Linked DNA regions of Homo sapiens: region 1 is linked to region 2. The links come from fine-mapping of genetic effects on gene expression. A gene starts in region 2. The other region holds a variant in brackets. All regions are shown on one strand. Distances are between the middles of the regions.

What was found.
Region 1: its variant is fine-mapped to the expression of SNN in whole blood (TOPMed, PIP 0.99). The same link has a PIP of 0.9 or more in visceral fat.

The regions. Positions count from the first base shown.
Region 1 is chr16:11,694,365-11,705,568 of GRCh38, forward strand. TXNDC11 (thioredoxin domain containing 11) reads right to left here. Exons shown (of 12, transcript NM_015914.7): 6 at 6,088-6,200; 7 at 3,761-3,961. Among named protein-coding and RNA genes, the nearest start is that of SNN, 32 kb to the left of the region's middle. The variant C/T (reference allele first, on the strand shown) is at 6,675.
Region 2 is chr16:11,663,821-11,675,024 of GRCh38, forward strand. SNN (stannin) reads left to right here and starts at 4,635. Exons shown (of 2, transcript NM_003498.6): 1 at 4,635-4,720. RefSeq lists silencers at 4,308-4,727, 9,217-9,286 and enhancers at 5,835-5,934, 8,859-9,678.

The DNA.
Region 1 (11,204 bases), 31 kb after region 2:
CCTGACCTCAGGTGATCCACCTGCCTCGGCCTCCCAGGGCTGTAATCCCACTGGGATTGTAAGCATGAGCCACCGCGCCCGACCAGCAATGCTTTTTTTTGAGACGGAGTTTTGCTCCAGTTGCACAGGCTAGAGGGCAGTGGCACCATCTTGACTCACTGCAACCTCTGCCTCCCAGGTTCAAGCGTTTCTCCTGCCTCAGCCTCCCAAGTAGCTGAGACTACAGGCGCACACCACCATGCCTGGCTAATTTTTATATTTTTAGTAGAGACGAGGTTTCACTATGTTGGCCAGGCTGGTCTTGAATTCCTGATCTCAGGTGATGTGATCCACCCTCCTCAGCCTCCCAAAGTGCTGGGATTACAGGCGTGAGCCACTGCGCCCAGCCAGCAATGCTCTTAAAGAGTTAGGCATTATCATTTTTCTCCTATGAAGGGGAATTTATGTTTCTATTCCTTTTACCTAACAGGCAGTTTTGAAAACACAACTCATGTCACATTCTGTGTATCACTTGATGTCATTTATTTCATGTGAATAATTAAGGAAATCTTGGCAAATAACTGTTCGCACAGTAGATGTTTCCTTCTATTTTCTTTAATCAGGGAAATCTGTGAGCCTGAACATGCTAACCACGCCTTTGCTTACCAGATTCAGACGATGTGAATGCCTCAAATAAACACCTTTAAAATAGGAAACAAGTCACGAAGACTCTTTGCTGGCTGAGGTAAGCATTTCCTTTGATTAACAAGTTGTGTAATACACACTGTGATGTCTTATAACCTCTCTAGAACTCTCTAGAGACACCAGGGTGTCAGTGGCCTCACGCCAGTGTCAGGATCTGTACTTTTGCATGTGTGTGTGGGTACACATGCAGGTATGCATGTGTGTAGAAGCAGCTACCCACTATGGGCTTGGTGCGGCCACCATATGGTCACTCCTGACTGGCATCCTACATGCACCACAGCACAACTGTCCAGAATGTTGGTGCTTGGTATGCCCCCAACTCTATTCCACTCACTCTAAGATGACCTCTCTCTTCTCAACAATGCAAGCATCCTCAAAGTTCTGCCCAATATTAGGCCTAAGGTGGTAATGAAAAAGTAAAGCCACCTAACTCTTTCGTGGTCAACAAGCTAATGAATTTACAGCTCATCTTGCGTAAGTACAGCGTTCATCCTTCCCACCTTACCCAAAGGCTTCTTCATCTCTAGTCACTGTGTCACAGTTTCCCCGATCATAGACCCTACTTTCCACCCTCCACCTCTACCACCCAAGTTCAGGTTCTTACTACTTCGCAGTTTTCTGGAACCCTCCTGCCAGAAAAACGTTCGTAATGATAACGCACAGCCCTGGCTGCATCTCTTCACTGTCAGTAAGACTTGTATGGGCCAGGTGCAGTGGCTCATGCCTGTAATCCCAACACTTTAGGAGGCCAAGGAAGACCGATCGCTTGAGCCCAGGGCTTTTGAAACCTGCCTGGGTAACATGGCGAAACCCCATCTCTACAGAAAAATACAAAAATTAGCCAGGCGTAGAGGCGTGCACCTGTAGTCCCAGCTACTTGGGAGGCTGAGGTGGGAGGATCACCCGAGCTCAGGAGGCAGTGAGCCGAGATCATGCCACTGTACTCCAACCTGGGCAACAAAGGAAGACCCTAACTCAAAAAAAAAAAAAAGAGAAGACAAAGACTTGGATGACTATGGTTAATCTTGAAATCCTCAGAGAAGTCCACAAGGCCCTCTCCTCCAAAGGCTTTTTCAAGATCTCTCCCCAGTTAGCCCTTCCTGCAGACCACAAAACCCGGCCTCCTTCCTAACACCTAAACCTGCAGCAACTCCCGTCCCTCATGTCTCTGCTCAGGGTCCTCCTTCCCGTAAGTTTTTCTCAACCCATCAAGATCCTGGCTGCCCCTACAAGTCCGTCTCGAATACTTCACCCATCCAAAGCCTCTGCTAACTCCTCCCCTGCCCGGAACCCCGCTTTCTGAGATGGCACCCTCCCTCCTCTGGTTCCTCCTGACCCTGGGCCTGATCGTCCTCTACTTTGAATTATAGGCAGGCTTTCACTCCCTGTACTGGACAAGCCTCTAAGACCACAGGACAAGATGGTGTCGCATCTATCCTTTCTCCCCTGGAGCTTCCCAGCACAGTGCTCAGTAAACATTTGCCAAACTGACCTGAAACAAAAAGGGAAATGTGCTGGACAGGCACTTTGCTTGTCTGAGTAATTCATAATACGGTGAGATGCCACCTCGTGTTCGGTCATCTCACCCACATGCTGAAGTTAAGGGAACGCACTCACCTCACAGAGACAATGGGAGCCCCAAAGAAAGGAGTCACAGGCAAAACCATGATAAAAAGGAGGCCTGTTGGTAGGTGGAGGATTTGCAGACTGCTGGAGGGGACACTCATTCAGAAACAACAGGCGAGAAAGAGTCTTCCCACCAGGTGCCTAAATCCAACCACAACCCTCTGGGCAGAGGCTGTGGGCTCCTGCCACAAAATACAACCCAGCCAGGACCCTGACACACCCAAACCAGACAGGAGAGAACTCTCCAAATCCACAACCACAGCCACACCACCTTGACCGAAAACCTTCCTTTCCTACAATGAGCTTTAAGGCTCTTAATATTAGATACAGTAAAGGCCTAGTCATTTGAAATGGTGCCTCAGTTCACAAAATATCCATGTAGTGAAAATTTTCTAAAGAAATAGTTTTATTACTTTGAGTCCTCCCTAATTAGAGGGGAAGAAACAAAGCTATTTCATTTCTCTCCTCTTTCTTCCTCTAAACCAAAGAGCAGCATTCATTCAGAATACTCCCCAGAGGGAATCATAACTTGAGCAAAAAGACTCCAGCACAGCAAAGGGAGGGATCCACCTGGGCGAGAAGTCCTGCCTCCCTGTCCCTCCAGGCAGGAGGCCAGGCCAGCGCTGAGGGGCTCAGGTCTGCTTAGCTGGCCAGTGGTACACTGGCTGTCTGAAATTGGTTTTGGCCAATTAAGGGATCCTTGAGGGAGTGAAAAAATAAAAACCTCAGTAAATGCAATTTTGCCACCCCAGGCTCGCTCTGCATACTGTGCCTGCTGTCTCTCCAGGCTCGCTCTGCAAAATGTGCCTGCTGTCTCTGAGCGCCTCCAAATGCTCCGTGTGGAAAATAAACTCACGCCCAGAGCAGGCGCACCAGATGAAGCCGAAGACAGGCAGGAACAGCAGGCTCCGATGGCGCTGCCTCTGAAAACCACTCTGGCTTCTGCACGACAGGGAAGGTTCAGAGAAACAAGGTGTCCCAACATCGCTGCTGCTGCTCGCTCTCCTCTGCTGTCCTGAGGATGGCCAGGGCTGGCAGTCTGGCCAAACCCCCAAGACAATGGCATCTCCTAGGCCACACTAAACTCGGCCTGTGTTCCTGCCACTCCCTGTTTCACCCCCTAAACAGGAAGCTCAACAGCAGCCACATCAGAAGAGGGCATTTGGTCCTTCTCTAGAAGGGCACGGTGTGGCTTCCCTGCCTCTTCCCACTCACTCCAGACACCAACAGCTGTCAATAAATATGGCCAGAGAGGCTGCGGCAGTCCCTGTCCTAGACACGGGCTCTCTCCTGCCCATATGGAGGGGCAAAGAGCAATGCTCAGAGCCACAGCTGCCCCTCGTGGCAGCCATTAGCTGCCAGAGTAAATGACTGAGTGTGGGATGAGAGGAGCCAGGTAGATGAGGCTTTCCTACTCCTCATGAGGTGCTTTTCACATCACAGCTCTTACCTCGTCTATTAAAGGATGACTTTCGGCCAGGGGATTAAAAGGTATGAACAGAAACAGCGCTGGTCCTTTCTTCAGCTCGTTATTCAGCAGGAGACTCTTGCCTCCGTGTGGCCGCAGCCACCGAAAGAGCGTCTCCTGGTTTTCTAAGGCCCACTTACAGATGTTCTCAGCTGTGTAGTTCAGGACCTCCCTGGGGAAGACCTGTGAAGGACAAAGGCACAGAGGATAAAGGAGAGCTCGTGAGGTGGGGCAAGCTCAAGGCACATCAGTGCTGTTCCAACCCCACCACTAAGGGTGAGAAAACCCAGGCGTGGAGCGGGGCCTGGCCCCACTGTGCAGCTAACACCCGCTTCTCCAGAGACAGCATTTCCTCACAAGTGGTTGAAAAAACAAAAGTGGTTGCAGGAGGTGACTTCCATATCGTGTGATTCATCTTTCTGCCTTGAGACAGACCCACCTATCAACAAATAATTCTCCCTGCCAGCTGGTGGCGATAACAACCTCTATCACCCTGTCCAAGGACAGGTATTAAACGTCACTGGGTATTCATAAAAGGACCAAGACATATCTAAGGGAACAGAAACTACAGAGTCAAGGATCATTTAGATTTTGACCTTGGTCCTTCAAATGCTGCCCCCAAGGGCAGCATGGAGCCTCCGTGCGGCACAGGCTGTCTGTTCTGCTCACCTGTATCCTCCGGGCCTAGACGAACACCAGGCACACAGCAGGAACTCAACACATGTCTTCAGCAATCAAAAATGACCTAAACTTGCACAAGGCCACGGATCATATTTTACGTGTACGAATAAATGAAAGAGACACCTAGATTTTTTGCTTTGTTTTGCTATAAACAACCAATGTATGTGAACATAAAATTATTTTTGAAATTCTAACAATTTAAATCACTGGCTTCAAACAGAACTACCAAAGGGGTGCTTCAGAGGGTTCTGAAAAATGAGATATTTAAAACTCCTCAAAACGAAGATTTAAATTGACTCATAACAGAGACTAACCACTGCTTGTGTTTTTAAAAATAATGGTATCCCAGTATTATTTCATTTGATAAAAGGAATTCTACTGCTACACAAACCAACCAACCTTAATCACTACCAAATCGAAGCAGAAACCTGATATATTTTTCCATCTCATAGTCCTACCTTTCTTTCCCCATCTACTTTTAATTTCTTTCTCAGTACCCTTTACTATAAATAAATATATGTAGGCTGTGTAACATGCTAAAAATGAAGGATGTAGGAAAATGACAGATAGCAAAAGCAGATGATGTCAAAGCAGCTTAGGCAGAGGCACAAGGAGCGTAGGTGGGCAGCAGAGAAACAACCACAGCAGTGATTGTCAAGGTGGGACGATGGGAGTTTGAAAAACCATACTCAAACTACACTCAAACATTTCCATTCGGAAAACACAAAAATACATTTGACTTTTGGAATATAAACTGCAAGAAGTAAAGCACAGCATCTGGGCTACGAGAGATATGCAGAAGCCAGGGCGACTGGCAAGCAAGGGGGCACCCCTGGAGTGGGCCCAACAGCCCCTCCGAAGGCACAAGACTTAGACATTGTGCCAAGGGGGGCGCAGGTTTTAAAGGCTGGGTACACTGGGTGCAGGGAAATTGATCTGTATATGACCTGTAAGTTACTGACAGTGATGCGAGAGAGACAGAATACTTCAGGAAAGTCAACTCAGTGATGTGACTTAGGAAGCAGCAACAGAGTAGACGCATAGGACTGAGCAGGACACAGGTCAATGCTCAGAAGCAGCTGAGTTCAGGCTGCTCCACAGAAAGCAAATGAAATCGGGGAACAAAGGCGACAATGGAAAACTGACGCTCTCTGGGATGAGAAGCCATCAACTTCTCACTGTGACTTGACAAGAACTTCAAAAATCCATTACATCAGCTAAGGAGAAAAGCATGTCACATTACTACTCATCATAAAAGAAACAGATAAACACAGAACATCACTCAGTGGAAGCCTAGCTTCTGAAAACACGGGCTCAGAGTAACAATTCTTCAAGAGAGTAACTCTGCAATTTTATCCAAGAAGAAAAACTTTAAAGTCTGTACCAAAATCTAAGAATACAAATAAAGAATTTCTATACATTAATTTCAAGAGCCCTCTAATGCATGGGTTCTTAACCTGGAGCCTGGGCTCTAGGGTGGGGCTGTAAGAACTCTCCATCCATATATAAAATCATATGCGCTTTTCTAGAGAGTGTCCATAGATTTTAACCAATTCTCAAAGGAGTCTGTGACCTAAACAAGGTTAAGAACCACTGCGCTAACATAAACGTGATTTCAAAATACTTACAAGTGATGTGTTGAAATGTCTATGTAAATACACACTTCCAGAGTGTACTAAGGATACCAGTTTCGCAAGATGTTTATTTGTGATAACCCCAAATCGTACTGTTCCTAGGTAATCTGAAACAGAAAATTTTCCTTTATTAAAGAAAAGGCCTGTGCCTTAAAACAACCACAAAACCCAGTGATCAAGTCTTGAAGCACAAACCCCTGCAGCTAAGCTCCTTCTGGTAACCTAGCCTAGAGAGGGAAGGAAGAGGCGCTGAGGAACCTCTCCTCCTGAAACCGACCTCGGCCCCTCAGATGTCAAGCCTGCTTCTGAGAGGATGTCTCTGACTAACGTCTCTGACAATCACTTGTGCTGAGGAGTCCCCTGTGTCCACCTATGATGGTCTGACCTGTCCCCATTGATGACAGGCTGAGGCACATGCTGTTCTCTTTGTCTGGACACTTCTTGTGGCTGGTTCCTTGTCATTACTCATCTCAGCTCCTACTTTCTGTGAGAAGCCTTCCTTGACCACCCCACCTAACAGCTAATATTTAGGGGAGAGAGTTTACAAAGGGAAACTGGGCTCCTGACCCATTCAGGTACTC[C/T]CTTTACCAATTACCCTATTTTTTATAGCACTTATTAACATTTGCATAATCTCATTCATTTATTTAGATTTCCTTTGGCCCAATGTCCTCTTTTTTTTTTTTTTTTTTTTTTTTTTGAGATGGAGTCTCGCTCTGTGGCCCAGGTTGGAGTGCAGTGGTGCGATATCGGCTCACTACAACCTCCGTCTCATGGGCTCAAGCAATTCTCCTGCTTCAGCCTCCCAAGTAGCTGCAATTACAGGCGTGTGCCACCACACCCAGCTAATTTTTGTATTTTTAGTAGAGACGGGGTTTCACCATGTTGGCCAGGGCAGTCTCGAACTCCTGACCTCAAGTGATGTGCCTGCCTCTGCCTCCCAAAGTGCCAGAATTACAGGTGTGAGCCACCACACTCGGCCCAATTTCCTCTTCTGACTGTAATTTCTGTGAAATTAGAGACTTTGTTTCATGCTAGTATCCCAGCACCTACAGAAGTGCCGGGGTGTATAGTTAAGAGGTCAAAAAATATTTATTAAATGAACAAATCTAGCATATATAAAGACTTATACAAATCAACAAGGAAAATTGTTAACATGGACAAACCACAGAAAAGGAAATATGTATACATGGCTAATAATTACTGGAAATAAACTCAACCTCACTATCCCAAAAGGAAGCAAATTAAAACAAAAGACTACTTTTGACCCTCAAATTGCCAAGAATTTAAGACAAAGGAAACATCAAGTATTGATGAAAGTAAAGAAATGAGTATTTGATGTGATGCTGGTGGAAAAAGGCAAAACGGCACAGCCACTCAGGAAAGCAGCTGCTGTACCGACTACAAGAATGGACACAGCTGGGATTTCCACTGCTAAGCATCCACATGTTTGTTAGGAGTCACATGCAAGGATATTCACCAAGAAACATTCTGCAAATGTTAAAAACAATGAGGCAGGACTATACACCACAAACAGAGGCTGAAAGAGTAGACTTTTGATGTTAACAAAAAAAAAAAAAGAACTCACACTTATAAAAGTTATGTGTGTGTATGTGTGTGTGTGTATGTATGTATGTGTATATATATATATATATATATGTTTTTTCCCCTACAGGCACATATGTTTAGAAATGTATAAAGAATCTAAAAGGATAATGAAAGTGGTTTGATGTTGGAGAACGAACATCAACAGGGACCTTATCCTTATGTGTGAAGCTTTCATTTTTTTTCATGGAGTATAATATTTGTGTGATTATAAAGTATTTAGTGTTAAAGGAGGGTGAATAAGATACTGCAGAAAAAGGTACATTCTTTCCTATCCCCTTTTTGCTTTATTAGCACATGCTAAATAAAACATCAGTTAAACTACAGGCCAGGCGCAGGGGCTCATGCTCTTAATCCTAGCACTTTGGGAGGCCGAGGTGGGTGGATTGCCTGAGCTCAGAAGTTCAAGACCAGCCTGGCCAACATGGTGAAACCCTGTCTCTACTAAAAATATAAAAATTATCCGGGTGTGTTGTGGTGGGCACCTGTAATCCCAGCTACTTGGGAGGCTGAGGCATGAGAATCACTTGAACCCAGGAGGCAGAGGTTGCCGCGAGCTGAGATCCCAAGATCGTGCCACTGCACTCTAGCCTGGGCAACAGAGTGAGACTCTGCCTCCAAAGTAAATAAATAAATTTTTTTTTAAAAAACAGTTAAACATCAAATATTACCAAATTATACACAAGTAGCTAAGATATAAAAATATTGAGGTGTTAAACCCATAAAGTTTCCAGTTTTATCCCATGACCCCATCTTTCAGTGGTGTGGTCCTCTCTCCCTCAGGTAAGGAGTGGCCGACAAGGATGAGGTCGGAGTGAGTATGTCCCTACTGCCAGAGTCAATAATTTTTCATACAAATCTGATGAGTGTAAAATGGCACAAAACAAAAGAAATACAGGACAAATAAGCCAGGCTGGGGAAAGGGGACTGGAAACGGGAAGGCAGGGCTGAGGAGGCCTGGCACTGAGTAGGCCTTTTTGTATCTGACTCCTAGGGCCACAGTGATGTATCACACACCCTTCACACACTCCAAAATTAAACAATTAGTTAAAACCAAGCGAGATGTGGCAAACCCAACGTGGAATACAGCACGTACAAATAACCCTAACTATTGCAAACGGGTAACACCATGGTGAATGGGACAGGAAGAAAGAACCTAAGTAACTGGAAAACAGTATCTTGACTGGATGCTGTAAAACTAAAGGCAAAAAGAACTGTACATAAATGCTGTAAATCTAGGTAGTAAATGTGTTTCTTAAAGAGGTATAAGTTAGCAATTCTGAAACTATGAACTTATTTACTTCTTTGTGGTAAGTACATTATACATAATTACAGCCAGGACTCTCACTGTTGCAGTAAGAAGTTATATATTAATAAGAGAAGGCTAAAATAAACCCTGTGATGTTAAATTGAAATCAGAGAGAATGAGTATAAACTTAAGGCTTTTGATACACACACACACACACACACACACACACACACACAGAGGGAGAGAGAGGGGATGGATAGAGAAATACAGATATATGCACATGTGTGGGTATAATACACTTCCTAGTTCTATCTACTGAGAAGACCTAGAAGTAATGACATCCTAATACCAAAGAGCATACCTAGCACGTAGATCTTGGTTTCTAAATGCCATTCTCCAGTAAAAGAAACCAGGGCCCTTGGAGAAGAGGTTGATTCCAGAGCTGGGGTGAAGAAAGTACAAGATAAGCCTGAAATATCTTGTATCAGAAGTAAAGAAGTGGGCTGGGCATGGTGGCTCACGCCTGTAATCCCAGCACTTTGGGAGGCCAAGGCGGGTGGATCACCTGAGGTCATGAGTTTGAGACCAGCCTGGCCAACATAGTGAAACCCCATCTCTACTAAAAATACAAGAATTAGCCGGATGTGGTGGCACGCACCTGTAATTCCAGCTATCTGGGAGGCTGAGGCAGCAGAATTGCTTGAACCCGGGAGGTGCAGGTTGCAGTGAGCCGAGATTTTGCCATTGCACTCCAGCCTGGGTGACAAGAGTGAAACTCCGTCTCAAAAAAAATAAATGAAGTAAAGAAGTGCTCATAAAAGGATGGGGGTTTGTCCAAAGGACCCAGGAGCCAAGCTGAAGCCCTCCTAGTAGCCAAAGTTGGAACAATTTGAGCAACAAAATAAACAATGACAGTACACAGAATAAGATAAATACCCATGACTCCATAATAATATTAATGAGAACAGTCAGCTCTTCTTTAAGGGAGAATTCCACTAATAATGAAAAAAGAATGAAAGAAACAGAAAATAACCATTTGAACACCAGAGTAATTGTTGCAGGCAAGATCCACTGATGGAGGCTAAAATTCATGAGCAGAAGTTTGAGGATATATTTACATAGTGTCAAATGATCTTCCCCCAAGGTATTTATTTATTAATTACAAAGGAAGAGATAGTAACTTTTCAGTGGAGAAACACAGCAGACACTACTTTAACCAACTGATCAAAGTTAATGTCACCAGTAGGAGACACACTGACATCATATGAACCCCCTGATAAGAAGTGCTGAGAAGTACCTATTTCTATGGTATTGCTGTCAAAAGACATGACCTATTCCAGTCACAAGAAAACAGACAAAATTGAGCAATTTTCTACAAAATACCTGAGAAATATTCTTCAGAAGTGTCAAGGTTATAAAGGACAAGGAAAGACAGAGGATTTGTCATAGGTTGAAGGAAACTGAGAAAAAAACCAACACATTGCGATATGGGATCCCAGACTGGATCCTGAAACAAAAACAGACACTAGTGGAAACATGGAGACAATTCAAATGAGGTCTGCAGTTTAGTGAATAGGACCGAACCAATGTTAACTTCTTTTTCTTTCTTTTTTTTTTTTGAGACAGATTCTTGTTCTGTCGCCCAGGCTGGAGTACAGTGGTGCATCTCGGCTCACTGCAACCTTAAGTGATTCTCCTGCCTCAGCCTCCCGAGTAGCTGGGATTATAGGCATGCACCCCCATGTCCAGCTAATTTTTCTGTATTTTTAGTAGAGACAAGGTTTCACCATGTTGGCCAGGATGATCTCGAACTCCTAACCTCAAGTGATCCACCTGGCCTCAGCCTCCCAAAGTGCTGAGATTACAGGTGTGAGCCACCACACCCAACTCTAACATTGACTTCTTAGTTTGTACAAAACCACCTAACAATTGGTTATGTAAGATGTTAACAATGGGGGAAACTGGCTAAAGACAGGCAATTATGGAACTCTCTGTTTTATTTTTGCAACTTTTCTCTAAGTATAGAATTAGTTGAAGATTTTTAAAAACTTTGTTTAAAGGGCATGGCATATAAGTCCAGATCCCAAAGCTGTCAGAAGAAACAGACCAAAGAGAGGACGTGATTTAGTAGGACCAAAACACCACTCTCCAGAAGCAGCTGATCTTGGAGGACAGTCACAGTTAAAAGAAGAGAAGGAAAAGCAGCCAGTAAGGAAATTCATTTGATAGCCTGCCAAAGTCACCATCGTGATTTATTAGA
Region 2 (11,204 bases):
TGTCTCAAAAAAAAAAGCAATGGGGGCTGGGCGCCGTACCTCATGCCTGTAATCCCAGCACTTTGGGAGGCTGAGGTGGGCAGGTCGCTGAGCCCAGGAGTTTGAAACCAACCTGGGCAACATAGAGAGATTCCATCTCTGCAGAAAAAAATAATAGCCCAGGCGCGGTGGCTCATGCCTGTAATCCCAGCACTTTGGGAGGCCGAAGAGGGTGGATCACTGAGGTCAGGAGTTCGAGACCAGGATGGCCAACATGGTGAAACCCTGTCTCTACTAAAAATACCAAAAAAATTTAGCTAGGCGTGGTGGCAGGCATCTCTAATCCCACCTACTTGGGAGGCTGAGGCAGGAGAATCGCTTGAACCCGGGACGCAGAGGTTGCAGTGAGGCGAGATTGCGCCATTGCACTCTAGCCTGAGTAACAAGAGCAAGACTCTATGAAAGGAAAGAAAGAAAGAAAAGAAAGAAGAAAGAAACGAGAAAGAAAGAAAGAGAGAGAGAGAAAGGAAGGAAGGAAGGAAAGAGAAAATAATAATAATAAAATTAGCCCAGTGTGGTGGTACATCTGTAGTCCCAGCTACTCGGGAGGCTGAGACGGTAGGATTGTTTGAGCCTAGATGGCAGAGGTTGCAGTGAGCCAAGATCACGCCATTGCATTCCAGCCTGGGTGACAGAGTGAGATCCTGTCTCAAACAAAAACAAAACAAAACAAAAAGCTGAGTGGGGTCACACAAACCTGTGGTCCTAGCTACTTAGGAGGCTGAGGTGGGAGAATCCGGGGAGGTCAAGGCTGCAGTAAGCAGTGATTGTGCCACTGGACTCCAGCCTGAGTGAAAAAATCAAGACCCTGCCTCAAAAACAAAGAAAATAAGAAATAAAAAGCAATGGGTATGTCATTACCATACACAGAAACACAATACCCACATCATACACAGAAGGTAACTAAAACATACACACACAGAAACCCACACATCATTCAGTTCTAGCTGCAGAGTGTCAACTGCCCGGGATTCTGAGCCTGAGGTCTGTGCTCTCTCCTGGACATAAGGGGGCTGAGCCAGCCTTACAGAGATGCTCAGGCCACACTAGCAGCAAAGGAGGCCTTGCCCCTAGAATGGGGAGCTGCTATGGGTTTCAGAGGTGAGTGATGCCCTCTCTGCCTTCCACCTAACCTCACCCTGCAGACCTCACCAGTGGTTCACATCTCACCCTTCAGGAAAAATCCCCTCTGGCCACGCAGTTTTCATTTTGTTCTCAGGCCTGGATCCCTTATAGAGATGCCCCAGGAGCAGAGGCCCGCCCACCCGAGCAGGGAGTCCCAGCTGTAGAGTCTCCCTTGAGGCTGAGGCCTCTCCACCCCGCCGAGCAACCCCCTTCCTTGTCCCAGCCCTTATAGCGGCTGGGGGAGTGGGCAGAGGGCCAGGCTGGTACAGGGCACACCAGCTGGACCCCAGCAAGCCCCAGGGAGCTGGGGTGAGCTCATCCCAAGCCCTCAATTATCCTCCTGGCTAATGAGCATCTGAGAACCTCCATCCCATTCTGTAAGGACGAACCCCGGGGACGTGAGGCCAGATGTCACTACGGAGGGAGGTAGAGGAAATGGGCTTGGGGGAGGGGCGCGATACTTCCTGCCTCCTCTTTGTTGGGGAGAGAAAGGTGGGGCTGCAGCAAGCAGTTAGGGTCGCAGTTAAGCGCAGGATCCTGTAGCCCATCTCATGGGCTCCAGTGCAGGCTTGGAGCCCACTACCTTGTGACTTTCAGCAAGTGAACTCGCCCTTGCTGCTCAAAGTCTGTCCCTGAATCATCAGCACCACTCGGGAACTTTTGAAAAATGCAGGATTTGGGGCTCAGACCTAGTGGGTCAGAAGCTGTATATTTTATTTTATTTTATTTATTTTGAGACAGGGCTCACTGTCACCCAAGCTGGAGTGCAACGGTGTGATCACAGCTCACTGCAGCCTCAACCTCCCAGGCTCAAGCAATCCTCCTACTTCAGCCTCCCCAGTACCCGGGAGTACAGGCGCACAACGCCACGGCCAGCTAACTTTTCTTTTTTAGAGATAGGAGTCTCACTACATTTCCAGGGCTGTTCTCAAACTCCTGAGCTCAAGCCATCCCCCTGCCTTGGCATTCCCCAAAGTGCTGAGATTACAGGTGTGAGCCACCGCACCCGGCCTCATCTCCATTTCTCAGACGAAAAAACTGAGGCACAGAAACGTTCGGCTGTTTTTCCAAAACCACCCAGCAGGAAAGCCTGGAATCTGGCAATCTGACTCCCAGCTTCTATGCCATGCTGAATCTCCCTCACCATTTTCCCCCAAGAATCTTTCCCCTCTAAGTGTCCCTGCCTCCCCTGTCATCGTGTTGCCAGTCCTGGCTCTGGGGTTCTTAGCCTGCCCCTCCCAGGTCCTCACCACTAATGAAGTCTCTGCCAACTTGAGGCGGGGACCACAAAGGCTGCTGGAACTGGCTTTGTGGGAAGAACCTATTTCCTTCCATTCTGGGCTCCTAGGTGTGGCTGATGGGGCAGGATTTGGGCAGATGTGGGGGCGGAGCTGTTCTGAGATGCCCGGCTTTGGCCTGTGGGGCAGCTGGCTGAAGCTGGGCTCTCCTCTGCCTTTCTGTCCTCCCTTCCTGCGCAACTCCCAGCTCACCTCCTGTGCCTGGCTTCCTGACTAGGCTGCCGCTGAACCCGCCCTGGAGTTCTGCAGTCCGATCATTCATTCATTCAACATCCATGTATTCAGCACCCACTGTGTGGCAGGCACTGTTCTGTAGACACAGCAGTGAGTGCAATACACCTAGTCCTGGGAGAGAAGACCAAAAGTTCATCACACAATGTCAAAAATGTACAATTTCACAATGGGTAGGCTGGGCATGGTGGCTCAAGCCTATAATCCCAGCACTTTGGGAGGCCGGGGCAGGAGGATCACCCAGGAGTTTGAGACCAGCTCAGGCAACAACAAGAGACCCTATCTCTACAAAAAATTAAAAAATTAGCCGGGCATGGTGGCATGCACCTGTAGTCTCAGCTACCTGGGAGGCTGAGGTAGGAGGATCGCTTGAGCCCAGGTTACAGTGACCTATGATTGCACCACTGTACTCCAGCCTGGGCGACAGAGCAAGACCTTCTCTCTAAAAAAAAGAAAAAAAATTGCTTCGTCAAATCTGCCCACATTCATAGATATAGGCTGAGTGGGACGATGGCTTGAGCCCAGGAAGGAGTTGGATGGAGGCTGTAGTGAGCTGTGATTGCACCACTGTACTCCAGCCTGAGTGACAGACCAAGACCCCGTCTCAAAAACAAAACAAAAAACCCCAAGGGAGCTACTCTTGGCTGGGCGATCAGGGAGGGCCCTCCTGAGGAAGGGGCACTTAAGCTGAGATCGGGAAGATGAAGTAGAAGAGTTCCAGCTGCAGGGAGCCACATAGGCAAAGGCCTGGCGGTGGGAAAGGCTTGGTGCACTGGGCGCAGGGAAGAAAGCCCAGCGAGGCTGAGTGGAGGGAGTGAGGGCCTGGCCACCTCAGCCTCGTGAGCCCAACCCGCCATGCTCTTCCAGAGGCTTCTGCTTGAGAATGGGAAAGAAGTTTCCAGCAAATAAGGCCCCCGTTCCCAGGAGGAGGTCCCAGCTCGCCCTGCCCCCTCCTGTCTTCTCAAGTCCCCTGGGCCACAGAAGCCTTGAGGGACCCACCCTCACCCCTTCTGTGGGCCCCAGGGCTGGGGTGTCCTCTCGCCGATGGCCTTCTTGGGGTGGATGAGTGGAGATTACTCCAATAACTGGAGCCTCTGTCTTCCCAGGTAGACAGGCCTGGCCTCAAAACCCTCTCTCCATCAGGAGCAGGCTGTGGGACTTCAGCTCTTTGGAGCCTCAGGTTCCTCATCTGTAAAATGGGAAGATTCTTTCTTCCGGAGTCATCTTAATAAAATGTGTTGGGCTGTTTATACAGGGCAGGCATTTGGTGGGGGCCAAACCACCGGGTAATTATGCTAAAAATAACTATGATTATAGGTGGCAGAGGGGTGCAAATGCCTCACAGCCTCATCCCGCAGAGGAATGAGAGCTTCGTCAGGGCCGGGACCTTGTCTGGCTCGTGGCTGCTCCCACGACGACTGGCGTGGCAGGCACGTGGTCAGTGTTCCGCCATCGACTGACTGGGCGGATGAATGATACATAAATGAATTCGCGAACGACTGATGCCCAGCTTCCTCCCGAAGCAAGGTCATTCACCTCAGCGGTCGCGCCTCTCCCCTGCCCCTGCCCCGGATTCCCCGCCGCTCTCAGCTCTCGAGGAGTATGCAGCACTCTTCCGTGCAGCGTGCCTCAGTTTCCTCCGCTGTAAGCAGGCGGGACCAAGGCAGCCTGCCGGGGTCAGGATGAGGCTGGCAGAGGAAGGGCGCCTGTAGTGGGGCCCCGTACCCACGGGCGCCCAATCCGCGCTCGCCAGGGCCGAGCCCGCCCGCCGCGCGCAGCCCCCGCCCCACCGCCTGCCGGCCCCGAGCACACGTGACTCCGCCCCGGCCCGCCCCGCCCCGCCGTCCCAGCGCGGGCTCCCATTGGCCTTTCTGGGAGGCCCCGTCCCCAGCCGGGGAGGAGCCGGGCCCCGCCCGCCGCAGCGCGGGGCTCCTGCGTCCCGAGTGCGCGGCGGCCGGACCGGGCGGGCGGAGCCGGGCCCGCGGGGCTGCTGCGGGGCGATCGGGCCGGGCCGCTGCCGCGCCATGGTGAGCCGGGCGGGGCAGGCCGCGCGCTCGGGCCGGGCGGGGGCGCCGGGGCCCGGGGGCGGGAAGGGGGAGGCCAGGACGAGGAGGGGCGCGCGCGGCGGCGGGGCCGGGCCGGGGTCTGCGGGCGGGGGAGGGGCGGCCCGGCGGGCGCGGCTCGGGGGAGGGTCCGTTCCAGGGGCCGCGCCCGCGGGCTGGGGTTCTTTGTCAGCGGCGCTGCGGCGAGATCCGGACAAAGGAGGCGGCGGGGGGCGGAGGCCGCTTTGTGGGGATCGCGGGGCGCTCGCCCCCGCCCGTGCAGCCCCCGCCCGTCCTCAGCTACGCTCCCGCCTTCCCCCGGCATTTCGGGGTTCTTCAAAATTCTGGGAGCTCCGGGGAGGGCTCCGGGGATAGGGGTCCAGGTGACGTCCGGCGCCCGTCTCGCGGGTAGGGAAACTGAGGCCGGGCCGCAGCGTTCGGCGCCCGGTTCCGTGGGCAGCGGCTGCGCGGCGTGGGCATGCCTAGCTCCCCTGGTCCCCGTCCCACACCCCGCCTCCGTCGGGCCGATTCGAGCTACCTCCCCAGCTGCCGTCCCCTCTCCAGCTGTCGCCCCCTGGGCCGAGCCCCCTCCTCCCTGGAGCCTCGCTTTGCTCCTCCGTGGAGTGGGGGAGACGCCGGCGCCGCCGGGCAGGGTGGAACGGGAGGGTGCGCGGAGCGCGCCTGGCACCGCGCCTGCCACGCCGCCCGCGCTCAGCACTCGGGAGCCGCCGGGGCGCTGTCACCCCTAAGTCCCCAGCACCCAGCCCAGGTCGCCCAGCCCGCCCCAGCGAGGGCCACACTGGGGTTCACCTGTCCGCGGCCCCTCAGGCACGCGGGAGAGGAGGTAGGGAGAATGTGGCATTTTAGAGTCAGGGTCGAAATGCGGGATTTTGGATGCAGGTTGCCTGGGTTTGAATCCCTGCGCGTCTACTTTTGAGCTGTGTGACCTTGGGCAATGGACTTAACTTCTCTGAGCCACCAATTTCTGTATCTGCCAAGAGGGAACAGTAATAGCTCAACTGCCCTGTTGTCTTGAGGCAGAAAGGAGACATCTGCGTGAGCTGTTTATCTCAGTGTCTGGCACATATAATTGCCACCAACTTTCTCCGGCATCTACAAGCAAAGTTGTTTGGCCAAACAGGCCAACCCTGGGGCAGCCTGTGAAAATGACCAGCGGGTGATTCACAGGGTGGGGGCATGAGCCTCTGGCCTGGCCCGAGGAAGACCCCGACTGACCTTGGGGCAGTCCCGGTTCAGAGCTCTGCGGGCTCCCGCTTCCTCTTTTGCCACTGGGGAACCTAGGGGATTCTGGAGCGAGTTTCCTCTTCTGAGGATGGGGGTGTCATGGGTGGGGGTGGAGGATGAGATAACACTGGCCAGAGAGCTGGGCACAGCCCCATCAGTGTCAGTCCCACTGGCATCCGGCCGTTCTTGGTCCTGGCTTCTGGAGGGCTGGGGCCTTGTGTGATGCGTCCTTGTGTCCCACTGGCTGCTGGAGGCCCAGGGCAGAACGGACGTCCCGCCTCGTCCTGGCTGTGTCCAGCAGTGCCCTCTTCTCCCTACAACCCTGTTTTCCCAGTCAGAACCTGGGGCAGGAAACGTTTCTGGTTTGTGACCCGGGGTTCGCTGAAGAGTTTGTTGGCACCCTTGGCAGGTGGCTTTATGGGGGGAGGCAGTACTGAAAGCCCCGTAGGGATGGCTGGTCCCCTGTAAGCAGGGCAGCCCTCCTGGCGTCTGTCAAGGAGCCTCAGGAGGTGGCGGCTGCAAGGCGGGGGTGTTTTGCTGGTGGTGAGCCCGGCAATGCTCATGATGTGCCCGGTTGAGTTAGGAGGAGGCAGCGTGTCCCTGGGGAAGGGGTGTTTGTGGCACTGGGCCTGGGCCAGGCTCTGTGCCCTTCTGGCCCTGGGGGTGGGCTTGGGGATCCCTCGGGCTCAGTGTTCTCCCTTTGTCCCTGCTGTAGCACACAGGAAGGTGTGGCTGGTGACATGCAAACCTGGTGACCTCATGTCCCTTTTGTTTTCACTTTTCTTACCACTTCTCATCCTCCCCACGACCTGGTAGATGAGGTCAGGGACTCGTATCCGCTTTGCGCATTGAGAAACTGAGGCCAAGAGGAGCAGCTTGCTTGGCTGGGCGGAAGCAGGCCGCAAAAGTGAGTGCTGGTCTGGGAGGATGGAGGGGACTCCAGCCTGCTCTACTGCGGTCTGTGGGCCCCCCGGGCCTAGAGCACATGGAGTGGCCTCTGGAGTGGGATCAGGCTCAGACAAGCCGGGGTCCTGGGAGGGAGAGCAGGACAGGAGGATACCCGTCCCCTCTCTGGTAGCTGGGGCAGGGACTGTCCATTTGAATGGCTCTGACGGGGTGGGGTTCACCCCCGGCTCTGCCCCCATGCTCCTTGGGTCCCAGTTACGGATCTCTGTGGGCCTTGGCAAACCCGGCAGGACAGTGTCAGTAACACCTGCAAGCTTGGGCTGCTGGGGAGGAGTGGCCAAGGGCGGTGCAGGCCCCCGCTCACCTGGCATGGCTCAGGCTTGTCTTGCAGTTGTTATTCCTTGGGACATGTGTGGGCTCTGCCGGGAGACAGAGTGTGTCCTGTGCTGCAGTTGACCTCCTTTGGGGTTGTTTGAGGATGCTGGGGCAGGGGGTTCTGGAGAGCCTGGGCCTTGGATCTTGCTTTTATAGTGGGTGGGTGGGATCCGAGAGTCAGGACCCCCTTGGCAGAGGATGGCAAGACTGAAGGCACATGGAGCAGGAGGGTGTGTGTTTGGGGGATCCAGATGGCCTTGGGCTTCAAATGCCAGGCAGAGGGGACACTCCAGCCTGCCCAGAGATGGAAGGCCCAGGCTGTGCTCTGGGTCCTGGCCCCTCTGCACTTGGAAGACCCCTTGGCTCTGCTGGGCTCCCCTCTGGGCTCCCATCCTGCCTTCTGGCTTTTTGCTTCACCTCCCTGCGTGCGCCTCAGTTTCCTCACCTGCCAGATGGAGATGCTAGGGTGAACAAAGGTGGCTGCAGCCTTTCTGGATCAGATGCTGGTGGGAATGAATGTGAGCTGCTGTCATGATGGTTGTTGGGTGGGCCAGGATTCCCATGTGCCAGCCTGGGCATCTCCCCAACCCAAGCTGTGGCCCGTCCCTGTCCCCTGCATCCTGTGGGCTTTACTGGATCAGGGCGAGGGGTTACCCAGCTTGCAAGACACAGCTTTGCTCAGAGGGGCTAGAAAGGAAGAACAGACAGGTGGGGTCCAGCCAGGCACAGGGGCTTGTGGGGACCTGCTGCCCTCCGCGCTTTGAGTTTCCCGGGGCTCTGCTTGGCCACCCCCTTCCCTCCCTGCCTGCCAGCAAGCATGGAGCCAGCTGCCCTTCCATGGGCTCAGGCCTGCCCTAATCCACTGGCACTCGCCGTTCTGTCCCCACACTAGGCCTGCAGCCTTCTCCCATGCAGTCTGCCGGCTTTTTTGAGTCTGTTGGGACAGAACATGGGGACCTGTGCTCAGGGTTCTGGGAGTGCCCTGAGTGTCAGGGACCCCCCCACCTATGATCCCCCTGAGAACAGGGTCTCCTCTAACTCATCACTGTATCTGCAGGGAGGGAACACTCAACAGACCATTCACTGAGCACCTACTGTGTACCCGTGCAGGGCAGGGGTACAGCTGTGGGCGGGACAGACGGTGCCCTCCTTGGACTGCCTTGGAGTCCAGTGCGGGGAGTGAGACAGCAGCCAGGGGACAGCCCCTGAGCCTAGAGAAGGGCAGGTAGCAAGGAGAGCAAATGAAGTAGGGCAAGGCTGTAGTGGTGGGGTGTGGGAGGAGGGGCGCCTGGGTCCAGGGTGGTCTGGGAGGGCAGCCTGCAAGAGGCGCCTTCTGAGAAAGTCCCGAATAGGAAGGTGCCAGCCGTGGGGCGGTCAGGGCAGAGGTGGGAGCGTGGGCTCGCAGCGGAGGGTGTGGGGACGCCTGGGGAGGCAGGGAGCTTGGATTCTCTTTGGTGCTGGGGAGGATTCTGAGTGGGGAGAACGCCATCACATTTTTGCAAAGATCGTTTCTCAGGAAACATTTGCTGAGTGAATGAAGGAACAGATACGCACTCGGGAGGGCCGGACCACAGGCCAGGCGTGACTGTGGCTCAGTCACTGGGCTCTGTGCTCGCGGCGGGGCAGAACCCCACATCTGGCTCTGCCCATGCCTCCTGGCCTGGGTTCAGGGCAGCAGACGGGGTTTTGGGGTCACCACTCCTCTTAGAGAATCCCTTTGAGCTGGGGCCGCCTGTGCCTCAGTTTCCTCATTAGTCCTGGGGCCAGTGGTTGAACTGGGGCCCTTGAACTCAGGTGCCTCCTGGCCTGCCCACCTGGCTTTGCCCCGCCTATCCCAGGTCCTGGTGCCATTGTTTGATTTTCTACTTCCTGTCCCTGAACCACCCCCACCCCCAAACACACACACTTCCCCTTCCGAATTGATACTGACTTGTCTTCCTGTCCAGAAACCCCAGGGGAGGGCAGGCACCCCAGCAGGCCCTGGGAACCAGAGGTGCAGGGGAGAGGGAGGTGGGAGGTGGGAGGCACAGGGCAGGTTGGTGTTCTTCTTGCAGGGAGAGAACACAGAGGTTGGGACGAGTGTAGACAGGCTCACCCAGCCATGGTGGGAAGGCTGTCTGTGGGGTCAGAGGGGTCCCCTGTCCAGTCTGGAGGCGTGAGAGAACAGCTAAGTGGGGTTGTGGAACCGGATGGTGGCAGGGGAGAGGCCAGGGTGGTCTGTACATGCAGGGGACAGAGCAGGGCCACCGTGGAGCTCATGGCCCGCTGGAGGGAGAGGTGGGCGCTAATCAGGTGGCCATGCTCCAGAAGCCAGGGTTGCATGCCAAGGCCACTGCTCCGGAGGGAAGGAGCCCGGCCGGGTTGGGAAAGCTTCCCTGCCAGAGCTGGTATTAACCGGGTCAGGGTGTCTTTCTCCAGCCGGGCCATCTGCGTGGTGGGGGCTGCCCTGTGCACGATAGGTGCCAGCAATATCCATGGTCTCCCTACTTGATGCCAGGAGTGCCACCTGCCCCCAGTTGTGACAACCAGAAGTGGCTCCAGACATGGCCAGATGTCCCCAGGGTGGGGACACAGTGGCCCCCAGTTGAGAACCACTGAACAAGGGTAAGCCGCCAGAACGTTCTGGGCAGGGGCAACTGCCTGGGCCAGGGCCTGGTAGGAGGGTTCGTTGCGGGGGTCAGCGTGGCTGGCGAGCAGGGCATATTGGGGATGTGTAGTGTTCGGTCCTGCAGGTCATTGTGAGGACTTGGAAGGCGTCCTGGCTGCAGTGGCCCCTGAGGGTGGGCAGGGAGATCCTTAGCGCCTGCGGCAGCCTGTCTCCTGGAGTCAGGGGGAAGGCAGTGGAATGGAGGGAGGGCACCTCCTCTGCCCAGGGCCCTCTGCAGAAGCTGCCGGTTTCCCCGGGCCTGGTCCCTGGACAGACGCTGGGGGCGTTGACTTAGCTGCCTTTGTCCTTCAGGCAAACCTGGCTTCTGGGGAAACTCCTGGTTGGGTAAGAATCATTTCTCCTTAAGGGTGCTGTTCCTCAAGGACGCAGCAGGTTCGACCCTATTTGGAGGGAAAACCTCCTTCCAGTGCTGTCTGCCTGTGCTGATGTCAGTCTTATCCAAAGGGAACAAAAAGCCAGACGTGTCGTTCTGAGTGCCGACCGCACGCCCAGTCCTGTGTAGAACGCGTCTCGGGCCTGTCCTCATCCTCACTGACCCCGGGTGCAGCCAGCGTTTGCTCTGTTTGTGGCGAGCGAGGCAGGAGAGGGAAGAAAGTGCAGGGTCTTGGGACTCCAGAGAACCTGCCAGCCTCAGCACTGCGGGGCAGCAGAGGCAAAGCCCTGGCCTCAGCATGCTCTCACTGGCTGTGCCTTGGGTGTCACCTAGAGGGTTGACAGGGTGCCTGGAGCTGGGGACTCTTAGACCTTATGTGCATTCCATAGCCACACTGTCCTCCGCCACTTGGCAGGCCCACCCATGGGTGAACTCCGTGGCTCGGCCAGGTGGAGGTGGTGGTCCCAGCCCTCCAACTTCTGGCGTCATTCTTTCAACATGTGGAGCACAGGCTTGGCCTGGCCTGGGAGGGGCCTCATCCCCGCTCCCACCCAAATCAGCTGGTGCCCCGACTCCTGGCACTTGCCAGGGGGACCCTCTCTGCCTTCAGAGCCTTAGCCCTCACCGTGCCCCCTGCCAGGAACACTATTCCCCATCAGCACCGCCTCCCTGCCTCCCACCTGCCCACCCAGGTTAGCATCTTGGCACCTGGTTGCTGTGTTCCTGACAATGGCACCCTGTATTGTGAGTGACCGGCATTTGGGGTACTAACCAGTTACAGTCTGGCGCCTGCATTAGATGCTAAGCACCATCAGGGAGGGAGCCTCTGTCTCACCCTCCCTGCCTCCCCGAAGCTTTCCCAAGTGCCTGTCTCCATCTCCCGGGACACTCTACCCTGTTGC